Linked DNA regions of Homo sapiens. The protein of the gene in region 6 interacts with the protein of the main gene of each other region in a pairwise test. Each region holds a gene or a part of one and is shown on either strand. Other genes may lie near its edges.

The links.
Region 1: the proteins of SYNCRIP (region 6) and SDC2 interact in binary tests that used the Homo sapiens proteins (3 or more experiments, as listed by UniProt).
Region 2: the proteins of SYNCRIP (region 6) and MYPOP interact in binary tests that used the Homo sapiens proteins (3 or more experiments, as listed by UniProt).
Region 3: the proteins of SYNCRIP (region 6) and CFAP418 interact in a two-hybrid assay, tested with the Homo sapiens proteins (one study listed by IntAct).
Region 4: the proteins of SYNCRIP (region 6) and PECAM1 interact in binary tests that used the Homo sapiens proteins (3 or more experiments, as listed by UniProt).
Region 5: the proteins of SYNCRIP (region 6) and PRMT8 interact in binary tests that used the Homo sapiens proteins (3 or more experiments, as listed by UniProt).
Region 7: the proteins of SYNCRIP (region 6) and RAB5A interact in binary tests that used the Homo sapiens proteins (3 or more experiments, as listed by UniProt).

What each region holds. Positions count from the first base shown.
Region 1 is NC_000008.11:96,500,313-96,503,812, reverse strand, and holds part of SDC2 (syndecan-2 precursor), read right to left. Parts: intron 1-3,500. UniProt on the Homo sapiens protein: Cell surface proteoglycan which regulates dendritic arbor morphogenesis.
Region 2 is NC_000019.10:45,892,614-45,896,113, forward strand, and holds part of MYPOP (myb-related transcription factor, partner of profilin), read right to left. Parts: intron 3,020-3,500; coding exon of another isoform or gene 3,009-3,019; exon of another isoform or gene 1,856-3,008; intron 1-1,855. UniProt on the Homo sapiens protein: Transcriptional repressor; DNA-binding protein that specifically recognizes the core sequence 5'-YAAC[GT]G-3'. Dimerization with PFN1 reduces its DNA-binding capacity.
Region 3 is NC_000008.11:95,252,202-95,255,701, reverse strand, and holds part of CFAP418 (cilia- and flagella-associated protein 418), read left to right. Parts: intron 1-3,418; coding exon 3,419-3,500. UniProt on the Homo sapiens protein: May be involved in photoreceptor outer segment disk morphogenesis.
Region 4 is NC_000017.11:64,363,361-64,366,860, forward strand, and holds part of PECAM1 (platelet endothelial cell adhesion molecule precursor), read right to left. Parts: intron 38-3,500; coding exon 1-37. UniProt on the Homo sapiens protein: Cell adhesion molecule which is required for leukocyte transendothelial migration (TEM) under most inflammatory conditions.
Region 5 is NC_000012.12:3,497,703-3,501,202, reverse strand, and holds part of PRMT8 (protein arginine N-methyltransferase 8), read right to left. Parts: intron 1-3,500. UniProt on the Homo sapiens protein: S-adenosyl-L-methionine-dependent and membrane-associated arginine methyltransferase that can both catalyze the formation of omega-N monomethylarginine (MMA) and asymmetrical dimethylarginine (aDMA) in proteins such as NIFK, myelin basic protein, histone H4, H2A and H2A/H2B dimer.
Region 6 is NC_000006.12:85,616,182-85,618,886, forward strand, and holds part of SYNCRIP (heterogeneous nuclear ribonucleoprotein Q), read right to left. Parts: coding exon 2,637-2,705; intron 1-2,636. UniProt on the Homo sapiens protein: Heterogenous nuclear ribonucleoprotein (hnRNP) implicated in mRNA processing mechanisms. Component of the CRD-mediated complex that promotes MYC mRNA stability.
Region 7 is NC_000003.12:19,978,097-19,981,596, reverse strand, and holds part of RAB5A (ras-related protein Rab-5A), read right to left. Parts: intron 3,288-3,500; coding exon 3,194-3,287; intron 1,637-3,193; exon of another isoform or gene 1,423-1,636; intron 1-1,422. UniProt on the Homo sapiens protein: The small GTPases Rab are key regulators of intracellular membrane trafficking, from the formation of transport vesicles to their fusion with membranes.

The DNA.
Region 1 (3,500 bases), on a different chromosome or scaffold from region 6:
ATAACATATCTTTCTCTGAAGGATCAGCAGAACTTACTTAAACAACAATCTAGCTCTGGTGCCATTTTTTGATTGAAATTTTTGTTGAGATAACTATAGACTCACACACAGTGTAAGAAATAATACAAAGATCTCTTGTGCCCCTTCCTAGTTTCCGCCAATGGTAACATTTATAAAACTACAGTAAACATCACAACAATGATATTGATATTGATACAATCTACCAATCTTATTCTGATTTTCCTAGTTTTACCTGTATTCATGCTGTGTATGTTTGTGTATGTGTATCTACACAGTTCTATGACATGTATGGATTTGTATATATACATTATCTTTATACACACACACACCTTTTAAAATATAACCAAGGTCTCACTATACATAGGTTTATATCTAACTTTTTGTGTACTATAGTTTCTAAGTTATAAATACCCTTCAAATAAATCTTTAATGGCCACATGATATTCAGTGTCTAAATTAGAATCTTATTTAACAATTACTCTATTATTGTACACTTGGGTTGTTTCCATTTTTTTAACTATTATAAGTAAGAGACTTCAACAAAGACATTAAATACTATTTACCTGGTAATGATTTCCTTTGGACAGATTTGTGGAGGTAAAATTACTGGGAAAGATGAGCTTTTCACATCTTAACACGGATTTGTCCTGTCCCTGTAAGGAACCTTTCATCAGCCAGAAATAATAAATGGCATATTTTCTCACATCATCCACTTTTAGAGAAAAGCTGACTACAAACATATTCCCAATATCTCAGCGTAGAACTAGTCTACCCCAAGACAAGAAGAAAGCCCCTGTTATGAAAAAGTAGGCCTTAGCATGCATATGCTGAGCCACCCTCTGGGCTAGAGCTTATCAGATGAGCCCAACTAATGTGTGTGCCAAGCCCTTATTCTTCAGAGAAGCAGAAAGCCAGGAATTATAACTAGCATGTGACACAACGCATGGACATTCCCTTATGCTAAAAAGTCCCTACTTATTGTGTCTCACATAATCCTAAAAACTTATTTTAGGATATTCAGTTTTACAGATGAGAAAACTGAGCCCAGAAGGTTAAAAAACTTGCCCAAGGTTACATAATAAGTGTATCCAAACCCAGGCAACACTACCATAGTCTGCTCATTTAGATTCTTGCTTGTGGTCTGCACAGTACTCAGACCAGGCTCAAGTGCTCTAGAGAGGGACCAAACGGAAGGCACCAGTTAAAAGCCCCACTCTGGAAATGGAGATCCAGGCCAGAAACCATATGAGGAGACTAAAACACTTTATGAGATTTATAGTTTAAAAAGACCCCCAGTATATCAAGTCATGTAGTCTTCTATCTAGAATGAAAGTTATTTTTACCACGCAGCTGTTCTTTATGTTACACTGGCTTGTATCAGAAAATATATAAAAAAATACTAGTGATATGGTTTGGCTGTGTGTTCACCCAAATCTCACCTTGAACTGTAATAATCCCCATATTTCAAGGGCGGGGCCAGGTGGAGATAACTGAAACATGGGGGCGGTTTCCCCTATACTTTTCTTGTGGTAGTAAGTCTCACAAGATCTGGTGGTTTCATAAATGGGAGTTCCCCTGTACAAGCTCTCTTGCCTGCCACCATGTAGGACGTGCCTTTGCTTCTCCTTTGCCTTCCACCATGATTGTGAGGTCTCCCCAGCCATGTGGAACTGTGAGTCCATCAAACATCTTTCCTTTATAAATTACCTAGTCTTGGGTATGTCTTTATTAGCAGAGTGAGAACAGACTAATACAAATAGACATTAGATCACGAATACGCAGGACAATGTATACCACTCCTAGTAAACAATGAACACTCAGTTCAAGGTAACAGGTTACCATGAGCTATTAGAAATTACTTGCCTTTCTGTAAGGTGAATAAATTCCATGTTTCAATAATAAAATTAGAAGTATTTGACAGGGGATTAATAATTACTTATTAAGTTAATCTTCACATTTCTCCTACCACACCCTAAAGTGCAGAAAAAGTAAATATTAAGGAGAGAGAGTTTTTCTCGTTCAACTCCATCATTTTAGAGATGAGAAAACTGAGGTCTCACAGGGATTAAGACAGTTAATTACATGTGTATAAAACCTTGCTTTTGCCTTGACTTAAAATGTTGTATATTTAGTCTACTGTATTTATATTTAATAACAAATTACACATAAATACATACTTAACTCAGCTGGTTGCAGTGGCTCACGTCTGCAATCCCAGCACTTTGGGAGGCTGAGGCAGGCGGATCAGTTGAGGTCAAGAGTTCAAGACCAGCCTGGCCAACATGGTGAAATCCCGTCTCTACTAAAAATACAAAAAAAGAATAGCCAGGCGTGGTGGTGTGCACTGTAATCCCAGCTACTCGGGAGGTTGAGGCAGGAGATTCACTTGAACGGGGGGAGGAGGTTGCAGTGAGCCTCATTTATGCCACTGCACTCCAGCCTGGGCGACGGAGTGAGACTCTGTCTCAAAAAAAAAAAAAAAAAAAAAAAAAAAAAGAAATACGTATTTAACTTTTCCCTTAAAAAAAATTTTCCTTTAATAATTGCGTATCTTGTCCCGTGTGTCATTCTTATACCATGAGACTAAATTCTATTAATTGCACACACTCCTTAAACATCACGGTTACTTGTATTTAATATACCTGTGTAATCATAAAAAAAAACACCAAAATGCTTTGTAGAGAGCATACTTACTGAGTCTTTGTGACATTTTTCACAAAATAGACTGAATAGTAGAGAAAAAAACTGTGAAAACATGTCTTTAATAACATTTTTCCATTTTTCCAAGACTATGCATTGGCTATCACGCCACCAGCTGCATACTCATTGGCTTCACTCTGCTGATGTGAAATGCAAATGGAAAATCTCCAAAGATTTCAAGGCTTCTCTCTTCTCCCACTCCTACCAATTCTTTGAGATACTTGAGAAAAACAGACATTCACAATTCTATTTCAACAGTGTCCTCTCCCATTCAGAGGCATTCACCCCTCCATCCTTGTTGCTAAAGCTAATGCTGCCTAGAAACAGACTTATCAAAATGCAGTTGAGATTTTTAATAGTAAGACCTAAAGCCCAATGGCTAAAAGAAGAAATTTAATGCATTTCCACTCTTTTTTTTTTTTTTTTTTTTGAGATGGAGTCTCACTCTGTCGCCCAGGCTGCAGTGCCATGGCATGATCTCGGCTCATTGCAACCTCCGTCTCCTGTGTTCAAGCAATTCTCCTGCCTCAGCCTCCCAAGTAGCTGGGATTATAGGTGCCCATCACCACGCCCGGCTAATTTTTATATTTTTAGTAGAGACGGGGTTTCACCATGTTGGCCAGGCTGGTCTCGAATTCCTGACCTCAGGTGATTGGCCCACCTCGGCCTCCCAAAGTGCTGGGATTACAGGCATGAGATATCGCGCCAGGCCACATTTCCACACTTAAAAAATAAAAATAATCCCTTTTCTGCCCCCAGATCCCCAAAATATACTCACT
Region 2 (3,500 bases), on a different chromosome or scaffold from region 6:
TCAGCCACCCCCATCTCAGCTGATGCAGCTCCATCCTCCCAGCTGCTCAGGTTAAACACCTTCACTGTTTTGTTTACTAAGACACCATCCACATACAGAAGCTATCGTCTCTGCCTTCAAATTAAATACATACAACTTCTTTCTTCCTGGTCCCCCACCCTGGCCCAACCACCAGTATCTCCCACCAGGACCACTGCAGTCATCGCCTCCCTGAGGGCTCTCTGCTTCCACCCCTGTCCCTGACAGTATCTTTTTCCACCAGCAGCCTGAGGGGTCCAACCAAAATACAAGTCAGTTAGGCTACGGGAAACAAGCTAGTCACAAAGAACCACAGATCACAGGGGCCATTTATATGAAATGTCCAAAATAGGCAAATTTGGCCGCATGTGGTGGCTCATGCCTGTAATCCCAGCACTTTGGGAGGCCGAGGCGGGTGGATCACCTGAGGTCAGGACTTCAAGACCAGCCTGGTCAACATGGTGAAACCCCATCTCTACTAAAAATACAAAAAATTAGCCGGGCATGGTGGCATATGCCTGTAATCCCAGCTACTGGGGAGGCTGAGACAGGAGAATCGCTTGAACCCGGGAGGCGGAGGTTGCAGTGAGCCATGATCGTGCCATTGCACTCCAGCCTGGGCAACAGAGCGAGACTCTGTCTCAAAAATAAAAATAGGCCGGGTGTGGTGGCTCACGCCTGTAATCCCAGCACTTTGGGATCTGAGGTGGGCAAATCACCTGATGTTGGGAGTTTGAGACCAGCCTGACCAACATGGAGAAATCCTGTCTCTACGAAAAATACAAAGTTAGCTGGGCATGGTGGTGCATGCCTGTAATCCCAGCTACTCAGGAGGCTGAGGCAGGAGAATCGCTTGAACCCGGGAGGCAGAAGTTGCAGTGAGCTGAGATTGCATCATTGCACTCCAGCCTGGGCAACAAGAGCGAAACTCCGTCTCAAAAAAAAAAAAAAAAAAAAGGCAAATCTATAGAAACAGAAAGTAGATGAGTGGCTGCCGGGGGCTGGGGGAAGACAGGGAAGATGGGAGATTGGGGATGGCTAAGAGGTGCAGGGTTTCTTTCTGGAGTGATGAAAATGTTCTAAAATTGATCGTGGTGATGGTTGCATAACTCTGAATATACTAAAAGCCATTGAATTGTACGCTGTATTTTATTTTACTTTTTTTTTTTTTTTTTGAGATGGGAGTCTCACTCTGTCGCCCAGGCTGGAGTGCAGTGGCGCGATCTCAGCTCACTGCAAGCTCCGCCTCCTGGGTTCACGCCATTCTCCTGCCTCAGCCTCCTGAGTAGCTGGGACTACAGGCGCCCGCCACCACGCCCGGCTAATTTTTTGTATTTTTAGTAGAGACGGGGTTTCACTGTGTTAGCCAGGATGGTCTCGATCTCCTGACCTCGTGATCTGCCCACCTCAGCCTCCCAAAGTGCTGGGATTACAGGCATGAGCCACCGCGCCTGATCCTGTACACTTTATTTTTAATTTTTATTTATTTTTTATTTTTTGAGACGGAGTCTCGCTCTGTCGCCCAGGCTGGAGTGCAGTGGTGTGATCTCGGCTCACTGCAAGCTCTGTCTCCTGGGTTCACACCATTCTCCTGCCTCAGCCTCCCGAGCAGCTGGGACTACAGGTGCCCTCCACCACGCCCGGCTAATTTTTTTGTATTTTTAGTAGAGACGGGGTTTCACCATGTTAGCCAGGATGGTCTCAATCTCCTGACCTTGTGATCCACCTGCCTTGGCCTCCCAAAGTGCTAGGATTATAGGCGTGAGCCACCGTGCCTGGCCTTAATTTTCATCTTTTTTTGAGACACAGTCTTGCTCTCTCGCTCAGGCTGGAGTGCAAAGGTGAGATCTCGGCTCACTGCATCCTTAATCTCCCCAGCTTAAGCGATCCTCCCATCTCAGCCTCCTGAGCTTCTGGGACCACAGAGGTGCGACCCCACACCAGGATAATTTTATTTTTTTGTAGAGATGAGGTCTCACTATGTTCCTCAGGCTGGTTTCAAACTCCTGGTCTCAAGCAAATCGTACACTTTGAGGTGATTGTATAGTGTGGAAATTATATCGCCATATATATATACATTTTTTTCTTTTTTCTTTTTTTTTTTTGAGATGGAGTCTCATTCAGCTGCCCAGGCTGGAGCTCAGTGGTGCGATCTCGGCTCACTGCAACCTCTGCCTCCAGGGTTCAAGAAATTCTCCACCCTCAGCCTCCTGAGTAGCTGGGACTATAGGTGCACACCACCATGCCCAGCTAATTTTTGTATTTTTAGTAGAGACGGGGTTTCACCATGTTGGCCAGATGGTCTCGATCTCTTGACCTCGTGATCCACCCACCTCAGCCTCCCAAAGTGCTGGGATTACAGGTGTAAGCACTGCGCCCGGCCTTATATTGCAATATAATTGTTTAAAAAAACACAAGTCAGATATTGTTTCTATGCTCAAACCGTCCTGTGGCTCTCACCTCACTCAGGGTAAAAGCAAAGTCCTTGAGGCCTCTAGGGCCCTGCACGATCTTCCCCCATTGCCTTCCTGACCTCAGCTCCCATCCCTCCCTCTTGGGTTACCTGGCTGTAGCCACGGTGGCCTCCTTGCTGATCCTCAAACACATCAGGCCTACTTCTTTTCTTTTTTTTGAGACGGACTCTCATTCTGTCGCCCAGGCTGGAGTGCAGTGGTGCAATCTCGGCTCACTACAACCTCTGCCTCCTGGGCTCAAGCGATTCTCTCACCTCAGCCTCCTGAGTAGCTATAGCTGGGACTACAGGTGTGCACCACCACGCTTGGCTAATTTTTGTTTTGTTTTTGTAGAGACAGGGTTTTGCCATGTTGCTCAGGCTGGCCCCATCTCCTTCTTTTTTTCTCCCCTAACCCTACCTGATTCCTCTCCCAGCACTTATCTCCACCTGGCACGGTATGGCTCTGTGTCTGCTGTCTGTCTCCTCCTCCTGATGTCAGCTCCATCAGGCAGGGCTTTGTATTGCTCCCTTCTGTTTACCCGGCGCCTAGAACAATGTCCAGCACAACATTTTTTCTTTAACGAGAAAAGAACTGGGGCTTCCAGAGACTCAGCGCTGATTGGGTCCCAGGCCCCAGAGTGCCCAGCACCCACAGGAGAAAGTCCAGCCTCTTCCCACGGCTATGGGGCCTCAGCACTTGCCCCCAACTCCGCCTGTCTTCCCACATGTCGTTCCCTGGGCCAGGCTCACACTGCCTCTTGCATCAGCTTGGATGTTTTTTTGGATGTTCCTTCCTCGGGGAAGCTGGCCTCCTGCTCCTTGGCCAAATCAGATCACCCTGCTCTTCTCTCAAAAACAGCCAGCCAAAGAAAGAGAGAAGATAGAGAAAAAAAAAATAACAAAAACAAAAAACCAACCATCCAGGCCGGGTGCGGTGGCTCAGCCGGTAATCCCAGCACTTTGAGAGGCCCAGGCAGGCGGATCACCTGAGGTCAGGAGTTTGAGACCAGCCTGGCCAACATGGTGA
Region 3 (3,500 bases), on a different chromosome or scaffold from region 6:
AACACATATTAACCACCTGATAGGTCCTAAGGATTAAATGAACAAATTTTGATGAACAAATAAATGGACACTTCCTGTCTTCAATGAGCTTTCAGTCTAGATGAGGAGATGGGCTTTAAATAGATTATTCCACAAATAAGTATTTATTTTCCATTTGATATGTGACATAAAGGGAACATATGGGATACTATAAGCATAGATAATGGACACTCTAACTAATATGAAGGGTCAGGGAATACTTCTCTGAGCAGATAATCAAACCACAATATGAAAAATGAGTAGGAGTTAGACAAAGAGAGGTGACCATTGGAGCCAGAGCACACGCATGTTTAGAAGCTCCCTGAGAAGGGGAGGAGCTGGGGGTGTTCCTCTGGTGGAAGGAACAGAGAGTATCTGGCCATGCTGGAGCATAATGAGTAGGGAAAGAATGGCCACTGACTGGGCTGGAGAGAGAGTGGAGGGACATTTGGCTTAGGGTCCTGTAATCCTTTTGAGGATTTTGGAAAAAGTTTGTCCTGTGTTCAATGGGCCAGATTTGTGTTTCTTAAAAAAGTCATGTTGGCTGCTGTGCAGAAAATGGCTTGGGAGTTGGAGGGGCAAGACAGGAAAGGACACAGGAAGACTAGTCAATGGGCAGTAGTTAGAGTGGTCCAGGAAAGAGAAGATGGGAGCTGTGACCTGCGTGGTAGCAATGGCTATAGGGAAAAGGTCAAATTTGAAATATTTAGAATATAGAATTGACAGAATTCAGTGATTGACTAAGGAGGGTAAGAAAGAAAGTTGTTAAGAATGACTCCCAAATAAGGTGCCTTGCTCAAGGTCATATCAGTTATTGCAAAGCAAGGATCCAGATTGGTTACTTGATTCCTAATCCATTATGCTTTCTATTATACCACTTAGCAGAAAGCCATGTAATATGGGAAGAATCTTAGCTGATGTTGCTGTTGGAACTGCTGTTATCTTCAAACTATCCAGACATCAAGTTTCTTTAGTCCCATTGTGCAGATCTGATAGGATTTAACAGAGAACCACAGTGTCTGGGCAGAAGATTGTATTGGGTTGGATTTGGGGCATTCCTGTCGTAAACATCTTTAAAATAGTGAATTCTACTTTTTAGCTGGACAAAAGAACAAAGCTCTTGGTGACATCTTATGTGTGATTCCCTCTACATTTTAGAGGGAAAGACCTGACAGTTTGTCTTTCACTGGAGTCATGACTTTATATTAGATATGCTTTTATGTACATAGTTATGAAAGAGAAATATATTTCAGCCCTGAAAAGAGTACTGATTTACATGGCCAGGGCATAAAGGAAATTGAATCTATCCTGCCTATTTGCGTTGTTTGATTTCTAGATACAGCTCTGGCTTGAGGTAATGCTGAATGACTTTAGATTTTAGAAAAAGATTTGTCTTTCACTTGTTGGTGGAAAAGGGGAGAGAATAGTAGTAGGAAGCATGGTGGCAGTAATAAGTACTACAGATAAAACGAAGGCATTTTCAAGCCAATCGAATTTTACTCTCAATTATTTTTTAAACAACTTGCAAGACTGGATTATTCCATAGACTGGTACTAATTATGATCTAATAGAGTAAATCGTAGCAGTGGAATGATTTCTTAGCTGCAAGTTAGTTTTATGTTTCTCAAAGGACAGTGTTTGTAGGAAAATGTGGTGGTGTGAATAGATTTGAATAAACTACTAAATTTTAAATTAAATTAAAAAGCTGTATTTAGCATTATGGTTGAGATTTTACACATACAAAATGTCAGGAAATTCTAAATTATAGTTCCCACAACAGCAATAATTCAGCCAAATTGCACATATGTATTAAGGCATTAAAGTTAACACTCTGTGCAATCATGTAATAAACTATATATGCATAAGAAAGCAGGTCATAGTAGCTTTGGGAACTATCAATTTGCATTTCCTGACTTGTACATTCGAAGTCTGAGTTCAAATGTGTACAAATGTAGTTGTTGAATTTCCAAATGTAGAAATGCAACTTCATAAATTGCTAACAGTTTGAAAGAAAATATGGACTTGCCTATGAAACTTGTATAGGTTTTAAATGTTTCATTATTATTATGGTTAATAGTATTTTTAGAAATACAAAGCATTTATTCTCAAAGAAATTTTCAGGCCAAAAGTATTTGCATTTTGAAATTAGCGTATCTGAACTTTGAAGGGAAATAAATGAAAAAAATCTAATGATGAGTTTATTTTTTCATTACAGAAGTATTATGTGCTTAATGAAAGAATAAAAACAAAATTGAAACATGTATAAAGAAAAAGATAATAATCTCCCTTCCTTCCCTTCAACCACTCCTGATGCAACCAGGGTTACTGTGTAGTATATAACTTTCTACATTTTGCTCCATGTTCTTTTTTTTTTGAGACAGAGTCTCGCTTTGTCGCCCAGGCTGGAGTGCAGTGGCGCGATCTCCCCTCACTGCAATCTCCGCCTCCCGGGTTCACGCCATTCTCCTGCCTCAGCCTCCTGAGTAGCTGGGACTACAGGCGCCCGCCACCATGCCCAGCTAATTTTTTTGTATTTTTAGTAGAGATGGGGTTTCACTGTGTTAGCCAGGATGGTCTCGATCTCCTGACCTCGTGATCCGCCCGCCTCAGCCTCCCAAAGGGCTGGGATTACAGGCGTGAGCCACCGCGCCCGGCCATTTTGCTCCATGTTCTTATAAACTTCTAGCCACCTATATAGGAATTTTTTGTGGGGGTCGTTTTTACAAAAATAGGATCATGCTATATATGTTAGTGTGCACCTTGCTTCAGATATCCCTCCAGGTTAGTATATAGTCTAGTTATCATGAGCATTGTTTGTTTCTTCTCTCACTGCAATCAAAGCTCTATGAAGACAGAATCTCATTAGCACATACCAGACTCTCAATAAATATTTTTTGAGTGAATGAATGCATTATGCCAAGTTGTGAGGAAGCAAACAAATACAATCTTTTCCCAGCGCTTAAGCAGCTTATCTGAAAAACAGATTCATTTCAATGTCATGTGACATATTCTTCGGTAGAGATATTCCTGAAAATTTCAGTAGGAAGGGGAGCATTTAAAGAAGTTAGCTTATATGACGATCTCCCTCAGACGTAATTTGAAAACCATGGAATTAAAAGATCTACAAATCTATTTTCTTTCATATCTATATAATATATGTGTAAGTTCAGTGTACAAGATCATAGTAAAATAGGTAGGTTTGTGCAAAAATTTAACCTTAAGGTTTAGACCGTAAATAATGCTTTAGTATAAAGATTTATAATCAGATTAATCTGTACTTTTCTGTTGTTTATTCAGTAATCTGTAATATGTGGTGTATCCTATAAATAAATCACCATGTTTTCATTGGTATTTAAAGATACCAATAATCTTTAATATACAATTTTTTTTCTCTGAACAGAGCATGTGACCATCTGCGTTGTATAGCCTGTGATTTCTTGGTAGTCAGCTATGATGACTATATGTGGGACAAATCGTGTGAT
Region 4 (3,500 bases), on a different chromosome or scaffold from region 6:
GTGAAGGAAGATTCCAGTTCGGGCTTGGAAAATAGTTCTGAAAAACAGTGAGTGGGAATGGAGCGAGATGTGTCTGGCCACCACCCTAAAGACCCTTCCTGGAGAGGCCCTTGGCTCAGGTGCTCTTGGCAGAACCAACTTCCAACTTCCAGCAAAAAGTTTTCCTTTGCTTCTCATGTACCTAACGATCACCCCAGTAAGGAGCTAGGGTTCATTCTTTGCCTAGGATTCCAATGGCAGGTTTTCCTTTCTTGTTAATCCAATTTATTTCAATGACAAGGATTAGAAAAGTTTTGCAACTTGTGGCCAGGTGTGGTGGCTCATGCCTGTAATCCCAGCACTTTGGGAGGCAGAGGTGGGTGGATCACCTGAGGTCAGGAGTTGAGACCAGCCTGGGCAACATGGTGAAACCCCATCTCTACTAAAAATATAAAATTAGCCAGCATGGTGGTGGGCGCCTGTAATCCCAGATACTTGGGAGGCTGAGGCAAGAGAATCCCTTGAACCCAGGAGACAGAGATTGCAGTGAGCCGAGATTGCTCCACTGCACTCCAGCCTGGGCAACAAGAATGAAACTCCTTAAGCTAGCAGAAGGCAAGAAATAACTAAAATCAGAGCAGAACTGAAGGAAATAGAGACACAAAAAACCCTTCAAAAAATTAATGAATCCAGGAGCTGGTTTTTTGAAAGGATCAACAAAATTGATAGACCGCTAGCAAGCCTAATAAAGAAAAAAAGAGAGAAGAATCAAATACACGCAATAAAAAATGATAAAGGGGATATCATCACCGATCCCACAGAAATACAAACTACCATCAGAGAATACTACAAACACCTCTAAGCAAATAAACTAGAAAATCTAGGAGAAATGGATAAATTCCTCAACACACACACTCTCCCAAGACTAAACCAGGAAGAAGTTGAATCTCTGAATAGACCAATAACGGGATCTGAAATTGTGGCAATAATCAATAGCTTACCAACCAAAAAGAGTCCAGGACCAGATGGATTCACAGCCGAATTCTACCAGAGGTACAAGGAGGAACTGGTACCATTCCTTCTGAAACTATTCCAGTCAATAGAAAAAGAGGGAATCCTCCCTCAGGATGATGAGGCCAGCATCATCCTGATACCAAAGCCGGGCAGAGATACAACCAAAAAAGAGAATTTTAGACCAATATCCTTGATGAACATTGATGCAAAAATCCTCAATAAAATACTGGCAAACCAAATCCAGCAGCACATCAAAAAGCTTATCCACCATGATCAAGTGGGCTTCATCCCTGGGATGCAAGGCTGGTTCAATATACACAAATCAATAAATGTAATCCAGCATATAAACAGAACCAAAGACAAAAACCACATGATTATCTCAATAGACGCAGAAAAGGCCTTTGACAAAATTCAACAACCCTTCATGATAAAAACTCTCAATAAATTAGGTATTGATGGGACGTATCTCAAAATAATAAGAGCTATCTATGACAAACCCACAGCCAATATCATACTGAATGGGCAAAAACTGGAAGCATTCCCTTTGAAAACTGGCACAAGACAGGGATGCCTTCTCTCACCACTCCTATTCAACATAGTGTTGGAAGTTCTGGCCAGGGCAATTAGGCAGGAGAAGGAAATAAAGGGTATTCAATTAGGAAAAGAGGAAGTCAAATTGTCCCTGTTTGCAGATGACATGATTGGATATCTAGAAAACCCCATTGTCTCAGCCCAAAATCTCCTTAAGCTGATAAGCAACTTCAGCAAAGTCTCAGGATACAAAATCAATGTACAAAAATCACAAGCATTCTTATACACCAATAACAGACAAACAGAGAGCCAAATCATGAGTGAACTCCCATTCACAATTGCTTCAAAGAGAATAAAACACCTAGGAATCCAACTTACAAGGGACATGAAGGACCTCTTCAAGGAAAACTACAAACCACTGCTCAATGAAATAAAAGAGGATACAAACAAATGGAAGAACATTCCATGGTCATGGGTAGGAAGAATCAATATCGTGAAAATGGCCATACTGCCCAAGGTAATTTATAGATTCAATGCCATCCCCATCAAGCTACCAATGACTTTCTTCACAGAATTGGAAAAAACTACTTTAAAGTTCATATGGAACCAAAAAAGAGCCCGCATCACCAAGTCAATCCTAAGCCAAAAGAACAAAGCTGGAGACATCACGCAACCTGACTTCAAACTATACTACAAGGCTACAGTAACCAAAACAGCATGGTACTGGTACCAAAACAGAGATATAGATCAATGGAACGGAACAGAGCCCTCAGGAATAACGCCGCATATCAACAACTATCTGATCTTTGACAAACCTGAGAAAAACAAGCAATGGGGAAAGGATTCCCTATTTAATAAATGGTGCTGGGAAAACTGGCTAGCCACATGTAGAAAGCTGAAACTGGATCCCTTCCTTACACCTTATACAAAAATTAATTCAAGATGGATTAAAGACTTAAACATTAGACCTAAAACCATAAAAACCCTAGAAGAAAACCTAGGCATTACCATTCAGGACATAGGCATGGGCAAGGACTTCATGTCTAAAACACCAAAAGCAATGGCAACAAAAGCCAAAATTGACAAATGGGCTCTAATTAAACTAAAGAGTTTCTGCACAGCAAAAGAAACTACCATCAGAGTGAACAGGCAACCTACAAAATGGGAGAAAATTTTTGCAACCTACTCATCTGACAAAGGGCTAATATCCAGAATCTACAATGAACTCAAACAAATTTACAAGAAAAAAACAAACAACCCCATCAAAAAGTGGGCGAAGGACATGAACAGACACTTCTCAAAAGAAGACATTTATACAGCCAAAAAACACATGAAAAAATGCTCACCATCACTGGCCATCAGAGAAATGCAAATCAAAACCGCTATGAGATACCATCTCACACCAGTTAGAATGGCGATCATTAAAAAGTCAGGAAACAACAGGTGCTGGAGAGGATGTGGAGAAACAGGAACACTTTTACACTGTTGGTGGGACTGTAAACTAGTTCAACCATTGTGGAAGTCAGTGTGGCGATTCCTCAGGGATCTAGAACTAGAAATACCATTTGACCCAGCCATCCCATTACTGGGTATATACCCAAAGGACTATAAATCATGCTGCTATAAAGACACATGCACACGTATGTTTATTGTGGCACTATTCACAATAGCAAAGACTTGGAACCAATCCAAATGTCCAACAATGATAGACCAGATTAAGAAAATGTGGCACATATACACCATGGAATACTATGCAGCCATAAAAAACGATGAGTTCATGTCCTTTGTAGGGACATGGATGAAATTGGAAATCATCATTCTCAGTAAACTATAGCAAGGACAAAAAACCAAACACCGCATCTTCTCACTCATAGGTGGGAATTGAACAATGAGAACACATGGACACAGGAAGGGGAACATCACACTCTGGGGACTGTAGTGGGGTGGGGGGAGGGGGGAGGGATAGCATTAGGAGA
Region 5 (3,500 bases), on a different chromosome or scaffold from region 6:
CAGGAGAAGGAAATAAAGGGTATTCAATTAGGAAAAGAGGAAGTCAAATTGTCCCTGTTTGCAGACGACATGATTGTTTATCTAGAAAACCCCATCGTCTCAGCCCAAAATCTCCTTAAGCTGATAAGCAACTTCAGCAAAGTCTCAGGATACAAAATCAATGTACAAAAATCACAAGCATTCTTATACACCAACAACAGACAAACAGAGAGCCAAATCATGGGTGAACTCCCATTCACAATTGCTTCAAAGAGAATAAAATACCTAGGAATCCAACTTACAAGGGATGTGAAGGACCTCTTCAAGGAGAACTACAAACCACTGCTCAAGGAAATAAAAGAGGACACAAACAAATGGAAGAACATTCCATGCTCATGGGTAGGAAGAATCAATATCGTGAAAATGGCCATACTGCCCAAGGTAATTTACAGATTCAATGCCATCCCCATCAAGCTACCAATGACTTTCTTCACAGAATTGGAAAAAACTACTTTAAAGTTCATATGGAACCAAAAAAGAGCCCGCATCGCCAAGTCAATCCTAAGCCAAAAGAACAAAGCTGGAGGCATCACACTACCTGACTTCAAACTATACTACAAGGCTACAGTAACCAAAACAGCATGGTACTGGTACCAAAACAGAGATATAGATCAATGGAACAGAACAGAGCCCTCAGAAATAATGCCGCATATCTACAACTATCTGATCTTTGACAAACCTGAGAAAAACAAGCAATGGGGAAAGGATTCCCTATTTAATAAATGGTGCTGGGAAAACTGGCTAGCCATATGTAGAAAGCTGAAACTGGATCCCTTCCTTACACCTTATACAAAAATCAATTCAAGATGGATTAAAGATTTAAACGTTAGACCTAAAACCATAAAAACCCTAGAAGAAAACCTAGGCATTACCATTCAGGACATAGGCGTGGGCAAGGACTTCATGTCCAAAACACCAAAAGCAATGGCAACAAAAGCCAAAATTGACAAATGGGATCTAATTAAACTAAAGAGCTTCTGCACAGCAAAAGAAACTACCATCAGAGTGAACAGGCAACCTACAACATGGGAGAAAATTTTCGCAACCTACTCATCTGACAAAGGGCTAATATCCAGAATCTACAATGAACTCAAACAAATTTACAAGAAAAAAACAAACAACCCCATCAAAAAGTGGGCGAAGGACATGAACAGACACTTCTCAAAAGAAGACATTTATGCAGCCAAAAAACACATGAAGAAATGCTCATCATCACTGGCCATCAGAGAAATGCAAATCAAAACCACTATGAGATATCATCTCACACCAGTTAGAATGGCAATCATTAAAAAGTCAGGAAACAACAGGTGCTGGAGAGGATGTGGAGAAATAGGAACACTTTTACACTGTTGGTGGGACTGTAAACTAGTTCAACCATTGTGGAAGTCAGTGTGGCGATTCCTCAGGGATCTAGAACTAGAAATACCATTTGACCCAGCCATCCCATTACTGGGTATATACCCAAAGGACTATAAATCATGCTGCTATAAAGACACATGCACACGTATGTTTATTGCGGCACTATTCACAATAGCAAAGACTTGGAACCAACCCAAATGTCCAACAATGATAGACTGGATTAAGAAAATGTGGCACATATACACCATGGAATACTATGCAGCCATAAAAAATGATGAGTTCATATCCTTTGTAGGGACATGGATGAAATTGGAAACCATCATTCTCAGTAAACTATCGCAAGAACAAAAAACCTAACACCGCATATTCTCACTCATAGGTGGGAATTGAACAATGAGATCACATGGACACAGGAAGGGGAATATCACACTCTGGGGACTGTGGTGGGGTCGGGGGGAGGGGGGAGGGATAGCATTGGGAGATATACCTAATGCTAGATGACACATTAGTGGGTGCAGTGCACCAGCATGGCACATGTATACATATGTAACTAACCTGCACAATGTGCACATGTACCCTAAAACTTAGAGTATAATAAAAAAAAAAAAAAAGAAAGGAAAAAAAAAATAAATAAATAAATAAAAATAAAAATAGGGTCTTTGCAGATGTTATCAAGTTAAGATGAAGTCATATTGGATTAGAGTGGCCCCTAATCCAACAAGACTGTTGTCCTTATAAGAAGACGTATAGACACACACAGGAAAGAATGCCCTGTGAAGATGAAGGCAGAGACCAGATGATGTGTCTATAGCCAAGGAAGGCTGAGCATCGTTGGCCACCACGGGAAACCAGAAGAAAGGCAAGGAACAGATTCTCCATGAAGACTTCAAGAGGAACCAACCCTGCTGGCATCTGGATTTCAGACTTCTGGCTTCCAGAACTGTGGAAGAAGACATCTCGTTGTTTTAAAGCCACCCAGTTTGTGGTACTTTATTACAGCAGACCTAGGAGGGTAATACAGGTGATGAAACTACAAAGATAAATTTTAAGAAACAAAGTTCCTGTCCTGGAGACTTTAGTATTCATTTTATCCCAATAAAGTAGCTGGATGAGAGTCCAGATCTAATATTGATGGCCTAGGGTCAAGCTTCCGAAGAGCTATACTTTGTTAGACAAGTACATTGTCTACTGGGTCCAGCTAGGAACCCACGCCTAGGGATAGTTTAGATGCGCAGGGAGAGTGAGGTGATGGCTGTCCCTGCCACAATTATGTCAGGCCCCTGTCACTCACACGGCACAGTACTGGAGACTGTGAAAGTGAGGATGGCAAGATGGCGGTGGAAGCAAGAAAAGACGTCCTGGAAAAAGGAAAGCTGGGCTGGTGTCTCTTCCTAGGCTTCTTCCAAATTCACCATTCCACATTCCTGCTGTTAATTTCTCCACCCTTTCTCTTCACATTTTAAGTTTGTACTCTGGTTCTTCTCATGCCTTCGCAGCCTAGCGGACTAGAAAAAGCATTTTGGTGATTAGAAAACCAGACTTTGAGCTCTAGCCTCATCACTTACCAGCTGTGGGATTTTGAGCAAATAACAGTAACTCTCTGTGCTTCAGTTTATTAATCCATACAATGGGGATATATGTAATTCACAGCATTGCACACAATGCAATGTAATAAGCGAGCATTTTAAGTTCTACAAGAAGGTCAGAGCTCTCACTATGCACAATTCCTAGACCTTATGCAGAGAAACACTGGTCTTAGACAGTACAGATCAGGATATACCAGAAAGTTGGCACAAAAAATAAAAACAATAAATGAGATGCTACGTTTAAAGGAGGTATAAAGAGCACAGACCCAGGAGTCCACAGGATCTTGACCCCAACACGGAAGAGCTCTGTGATATTGGACAAGTAGTTCCTATCTCCTGACTTAAGTGATTTGAGTTTCCACCCAACTTTAACATTCTATGACTTTATGAAAATACGCACATCAAGCTGTTTGCTCAATATAAAATTACACTTTAAAAAGAGATCTTTACTTATGGGCCACTCATTACAAATATGGGAAAAACTGTGATGCTTGAGGGAATTCTTATAACAAGTGA
Region 6 (2,705 bases):
TCATGTTCCCTACAGTACAATTTTATACAATTCCTTAAAACTTAGTGATTATTTTGAGCCCAATAATCCCATGAAATATGGAAATTAATCCCTCTTGAAGGAATAATTTACTCGTGTTTTTTATTCCGTACCTGTTATGTTATTTTATTTATTTATTTATTTGAGACACAGTCTTGCTCTGTCACCCAGGCTGCAATGCAGTGGCGCAATCTCACCTCACTGCAACCTCCACCTCCTGGGTTCAAGTGATTCTCCTGCCACAGCCTCTCGAGTAGCTGGGACTATAGGCATGTGCCACCATACCTAGCCAATTTTTATTTTTAGTAGAGATGGGGTTTCACCATGTTGGCCAGGCTGGTCTCGAACTCCTAACCTCGAATGATCCACCCACCTCGGCCTAGAGTGATCTGCCCACCTCAGCCTCCCAAAGTGGTGGGATTACAGGCATGAGCCACCACGCCCGGCCTTATTTTATCCTGAATTATTAAAGGCCCCTGTTCCAACTGACTAACGTAAAAATGTTATTCCGGTTCACTAGGTCCTTAGACCTTTTATGTGCTCTGCTGGTTTATTGTTTTGAGGAAATGATGGAAAGATCATCCTTTTCTATTTCTAAATAGTTCTCACCAGGGATAATTTTGCCACCACCTCTTTCCAGGGGGACATTTTAGACGGTCATAACTGAGAAAGGGGGTGCTACTGGCATCTAGCAGGAAGAGGCCAAGGATGCTGCTAAAAGTCCTACAACGCACAGGGCAGCCCCCAAGACCAAGAATTATCCAGCCCAAAATGTCAGGAGGACAGAGATGAGAAATCCTGGTATAGTGGTTAAGAGGGAAAATTATGGGAGACTAGACTACCTTAGTTCAAATCCAACTCCACTACTTACTATGTGAATGACCCCAAGGAAGTTGACTTCTGAGCCTCAGTTTCCTCATTTCAAACTAAGGGATAGAGTACCTAACTCACAGGAATACAGTGAGAATTATGTAGGAATACGTGCTTAGTTAAAACTTAAAAAAAAAAAAAAAAAGACTGTAGCAAGTTAAAGTACGAAAGTAACATGCAATCATCCCTTTTAGTTTGTACTCCTTTTCAAATATTAACAGATATACTGACATCCTCCACCTTCTATTTAGTATCTCCCTCTATCAAGTACCAAATGTAACTGCTCTAATCACATTATCTAATATAATCTCCTATACTTACATTCTACTTTAATAAATTAACCATATATCGTCTTCTGAAAGAAATAAAAAGAAGTTATTTTACACTGTTTAGTATATCCAGGTGTTTGAAATATAGAGCATTAAAACTAACTCTTTTTGTAGTCTTCCTTCATTTACACTATCATCAAACCTACAAAGTATATTTTCTTTGGTCCCAGAACAAGCATGGGTCACTTGGATAATCACATAATCCAGAGCTATTACATAATTTTGTCTGATCCCATTTTAGAACTGAAGAAATTGAGGTTCAGAGCTTGCCAACTTGTCCAACTGGACAATTAACTGCAGAAACTAGAACTTGATCAATTCCCTGATTATGAAGTAACAGAAATATGTAGAAGCATCCTCTTCCTTTAAATTCCAAACAGGGCAATCAACAGAAAATTAACCTTGAATAGTATTGACAGTGATTATTGCTCTCACATTCAAGAACAATTACCCCTCTTCTAGGAAATCAGTAACTAACTTTTTAGGAGCTAACTTCAATTCTTACCCAACTAAGTTTCCTTCAGTCTTAAGCAGATACCTATTTACAGATTCTCTAAAAAGGTCTCCCTAATTAGTATAACTCATTACACACCTACTTGTTTTCTTATTGCACTACTGTGTTATAATTTTAATACTCATTTCATTTTCAAAATCCATCCATCGAACATGAAATTTTTGGGGTGGCAATGAGCACTACTGGTGAAGAAACAGTCTATCATGAATAGAGATTTAGTATTTCCTATCTCTCAGAGAAAAAACTCTCCACCCTTTAACAAAATGTATTAAGATATTTGGACAGCTAATATTTAAGACATTTTCAGAAGAACATTCTGTAAAATACAAAGAAAATATGTGAGATAGGCCAGGCATGGTGGCTCACAGCTGTAATCCCAGCACTTTGGGAGGCAGAGGTGGGCGGATCACCTGAGGTCAGGAGTTTGAGACCAACCTGGCCAACATGACGAAACCCCACCCCTACTAAAAAAAAAAACACAAAAATTACCAGGCATGGTGGCGCCTGTAACCCAGCTACTCAGAAGACTGAGGCAGGAGAATCTCTTGAACCCGGGAGGTGGAGGTTCCAGTGAGCCGAAAGAGTGCCACTGCACTCCAGCCTGAGTGACAAAGTGAGACTCTGTCACCCAATACAAAACAAAAAAAAAGCTAGACAGATTTTTCATCTTGCCAATTTACCAAAATTCCAGTTATTTACAATTCTGATTATTTTCACAAATATGGTTCATAGTAAGAGTTCAATAAACACTTAGATCACTGGTGTTTCCCTATGACTCTCAAACGTTCAAGTCTTCTTTAAAGAGATGTTATGCATTTAACAAGTCTGATCAACACCTGTTATTTTCCAATTAGTGTATAAATATTAAAATTTATACAATTTTTAAGTATACAAATTTCACTCACATTTGATTTTTTGCTGCTTGCCTCTGAGCTTTTCTTTCTTTCCTTTTCTGATCTGGTGGCTTGGCAAAA
Region 7 (3,500 bases), on a different chromosome or scaffold from region 6:
TGTCACCCAGGCTGGAGTGCAGTGGCACGATCTCAGCTCGCTACAACCTCTGCCTCCTGGGTTCAAGCAATTCCCCTGCCTCAGCCTCCCAAGTAGCTGGGACTACAGGCACATACCACCACACCCAGCTAATTTTTCTATTTTTAGTAGAGACGGGGTTTCGACATGTTGGCCCGGCTTGTTTCCTGACCAACTCCTGACCTCAGGTGATAGCCCGCCTTGGCCTCCCAAAGTGCTGGGATTACAGGTAGTGAGCCACTGCGCCCAGCCTGATTTATGATATTTTTAATTTATGATGGGTTTCTGTATGTAATCCCGTAGTAAGTTAAGAATGTACTAAATGCATATCACTTTCACCCCATCGAGTTATAAAATCGTAAGTCAAACCACTGTAAAGTTGGAGATTGCTGTAGTTTGTTTTAATACATAAGATCCTTGATGTGCTAAATTCATTTTTTGAGGGGAGGCAGAATATTAAAGATGACTAAGAGTACTGATTTTAAGAGTGGCTGCACACACTGATCTCTATCAATCTTGGGGACAGACCACTATGGTAAGACTCTAACTTTACCATAGCTTTGACTCAGGTTACTCAGAAATTGAATACACTCTGCTTTGAGATCGGATTGCCTAGTTGCATTGTGAACCTTTTATCCTTTATTTGTTCTACACATTCCATTCTACATCAGCATCAATCATTTTTAGAATCCTAGATGCTGGGTTGGGCAATGGATTTGGGAGCCAGGAGCACTGAAGTTTGGAAAGAAAGCCTTCAATTGGGCCACTTCTCTGGGACTGGCTCTGGGCTGGTAGCATAAATAGCATTATAATGGTAAATCTCCAGTCAAATGTATTTACAAGCAAAGCCCCAGAAATGTTGAACACTGGTACCTGGGACACAAAATAGCACTATATATTGTATATAATAACAACTTAGGTTCCAGATTGAGTAATCAATCATGTATCCCTTTAGCATGTTCCCTAAGTGTTTAAATCAGAGGTGAGTGAGATTAAGAGGATGAAGGAGGTAAACTAGAACGAGTAACTTTTTAGTCCTTGCATTGATTAGAGTTGTTATGAGTGCACTGTGTGATTTAAGTTACTAATCTATCAAAGTGTTCCTTCATAACAAAAAAAAAAAGAAAAAAAAATTTACTAACCTAGTGAAGGAAATGGAAAGGCCACAATTCCATTTACAACATAGATTTTCTTTTAAGAAGTGCAACATTCTGATTTCAGAAAAAAACAAAAAACTAAAATATGTAGGCTGCTTTCTAACTCGAAAAATGACTTTATTAGCATGTTTGAATAAAAAGGTACAAACTAAAGCCCATCTGGTAGAGTTTAAATATTGTGAGAAAGGTTTACAGTGCAGGCTGATTTGAGAGGCCTATTAACTCATTGTTTCCTCTAACTTTTCAGATGTGATTCTGGGTGTCATCTGTCACATTTGTAAAATGAGTATATTATCACACAATCCTTCGCAACTGTGCCAGCACTTCCCTAGCAAACTGCAAACTTGAGTTTTTCAGGAAAACAGTTTACATGAGAAAAGGCAAGTTCTTTCCCATTTCGAATGAAGTACCATTAAACTCTGTCACCTAGTGAAAAATAATAAAAATACTTGCAACTTTTACTGGGTTTTCATTATTCTCTGATTCAGCTATTAACTATTTATGAGTTCAATTTAAGAATATTTCTTACTTGGGGTTAGGACTGTGAACACCCCAGTTAAGAATCAGTGCTGTAAAATAAAAGGTGTTATGGGATGAGAAGAGTGCTGGGCACATGAAAACCACAGACGGCAAACTTTGAGAACCACCAAAACAGACCCTTCAGGTAGAATCTATACATTAAAACCACTGGAAAGAGGAAAGGGTTAAAAAAAAAATCCAAAACCAAAAAACAAAACCAACCTTTATTTTTGTTATAGAAAAAAGGAGGCTTATTACTACTCCAACTTCATTACTTATAACTGAAACAGCAATTACCATCAGTTAAAAGTACCTTAGGGCCAGGGGCAGTGGCTCGCGCCTGTAATCCCAGCACTTTGGGAGGCTGACGTGGGCGGATCACAAGGTCAGGAGATTGAGACCATCCTGGCTAACATGGTGAAACCCCGTCTCTACTAAAAATACAAAAAAAATTAGTCGGGCATGGTGGTGGGTGCCTGTAGTCCCAGCTACAGGAGAGGCTGAGGCAGGAGAATGGCGTGAATCCAGGAGGCGGAGCTTGCAGTGAGCCGAGATCGTCCCACTGCACTCCAACCTGGGTGACAGAGCAGGACTCCATTTCAAAAAAAAAAAAAAAGAAAGTACCTTAGGCTGGGTGTAGTGGCTCACGCCTGTAATCCCAGCACTTTGGGAGGCCGAGGTGGGCAGATCACGAGATCAGGAGTTCGAGACCAGCCTGACCAACATGGTGAAACCCTGTCTCTACTATAAATACAAAAATTAGCTGGGCGTGGTGGTGTGCACCTGTAATCCCAGCAATTCAGGAGGCAGAAGCAGGAGAACCGCTTGAATCCGGGAAGTGGAGGTTGCAGTGAGCTGAGATCGTACCATTGCACTCCAGCCTGGGCGACAGAGCGAGACTGTCTCAAAAAAAAAAAAAGTACCTTAAAGCAACAGCAAGAACATTGTGTAAGATCAAATGACCATCTGAGGTAATATAAAGTATGGATGTTGTTTTGTTTTCCTTTTTTCTCCTTACGCCTCTATGCTTTGAAATCATCTTCCTTATAATGTTTACATTAAAATAATTTGTCAATCTGTATACTTATGTGTCATGTTCTTCTGAGTTATATTTACCAATAATTTGATTTTTAAAAAGTATAATCTAATAAAAAAAATATTTATCCAAATTTCCCAGCGAAACCTTTGCAAAATCTGTCTGTCTGAACTATCAGGTTAAGAGGTTAAGGCTTAACTCACCTGGAAGAAGCTGCCTAAACTGACAGTATTACAACCTAATAGGTAATCATCTTTCAAATTTAACAATATTACCAACAAAATATTGTTTTGTGGAAGGGACTTAGAAAAGTGGTATAATCTCTCTCTCTCTCTCACACACACACATAAACATACACACAAACCCACCCCCAAAAATTTTTTAAAAAAGAGACAGTCAAACCAAATATGCTTCACACTTGTTTTGCTTATATTGATCATTTAAAAAGAGATATTAATCTTACCTATTGCCATGAATATTTCATTTACATTCATTGATGTTTTAGCGGATGTCTCCATGAATAATAAACTATTGTCATCTGCATAGGACTGTGCTTCCTGTTTACAGAACAAAAAATGAGATATATGAGATATATCTCTTGGAAATACACTACACCTGCTTTAAACTTGTTATAGAAAAGGAGACTTTCTTATTACTACAACCTGATTCCTATAATCATCTATAATCAACAACTATATAATAAGCTACAACAGAGGTAAGAGCACTGTGCAAGATAATTTTATAATGGACTATTTCCTTTTTTGTCTGAA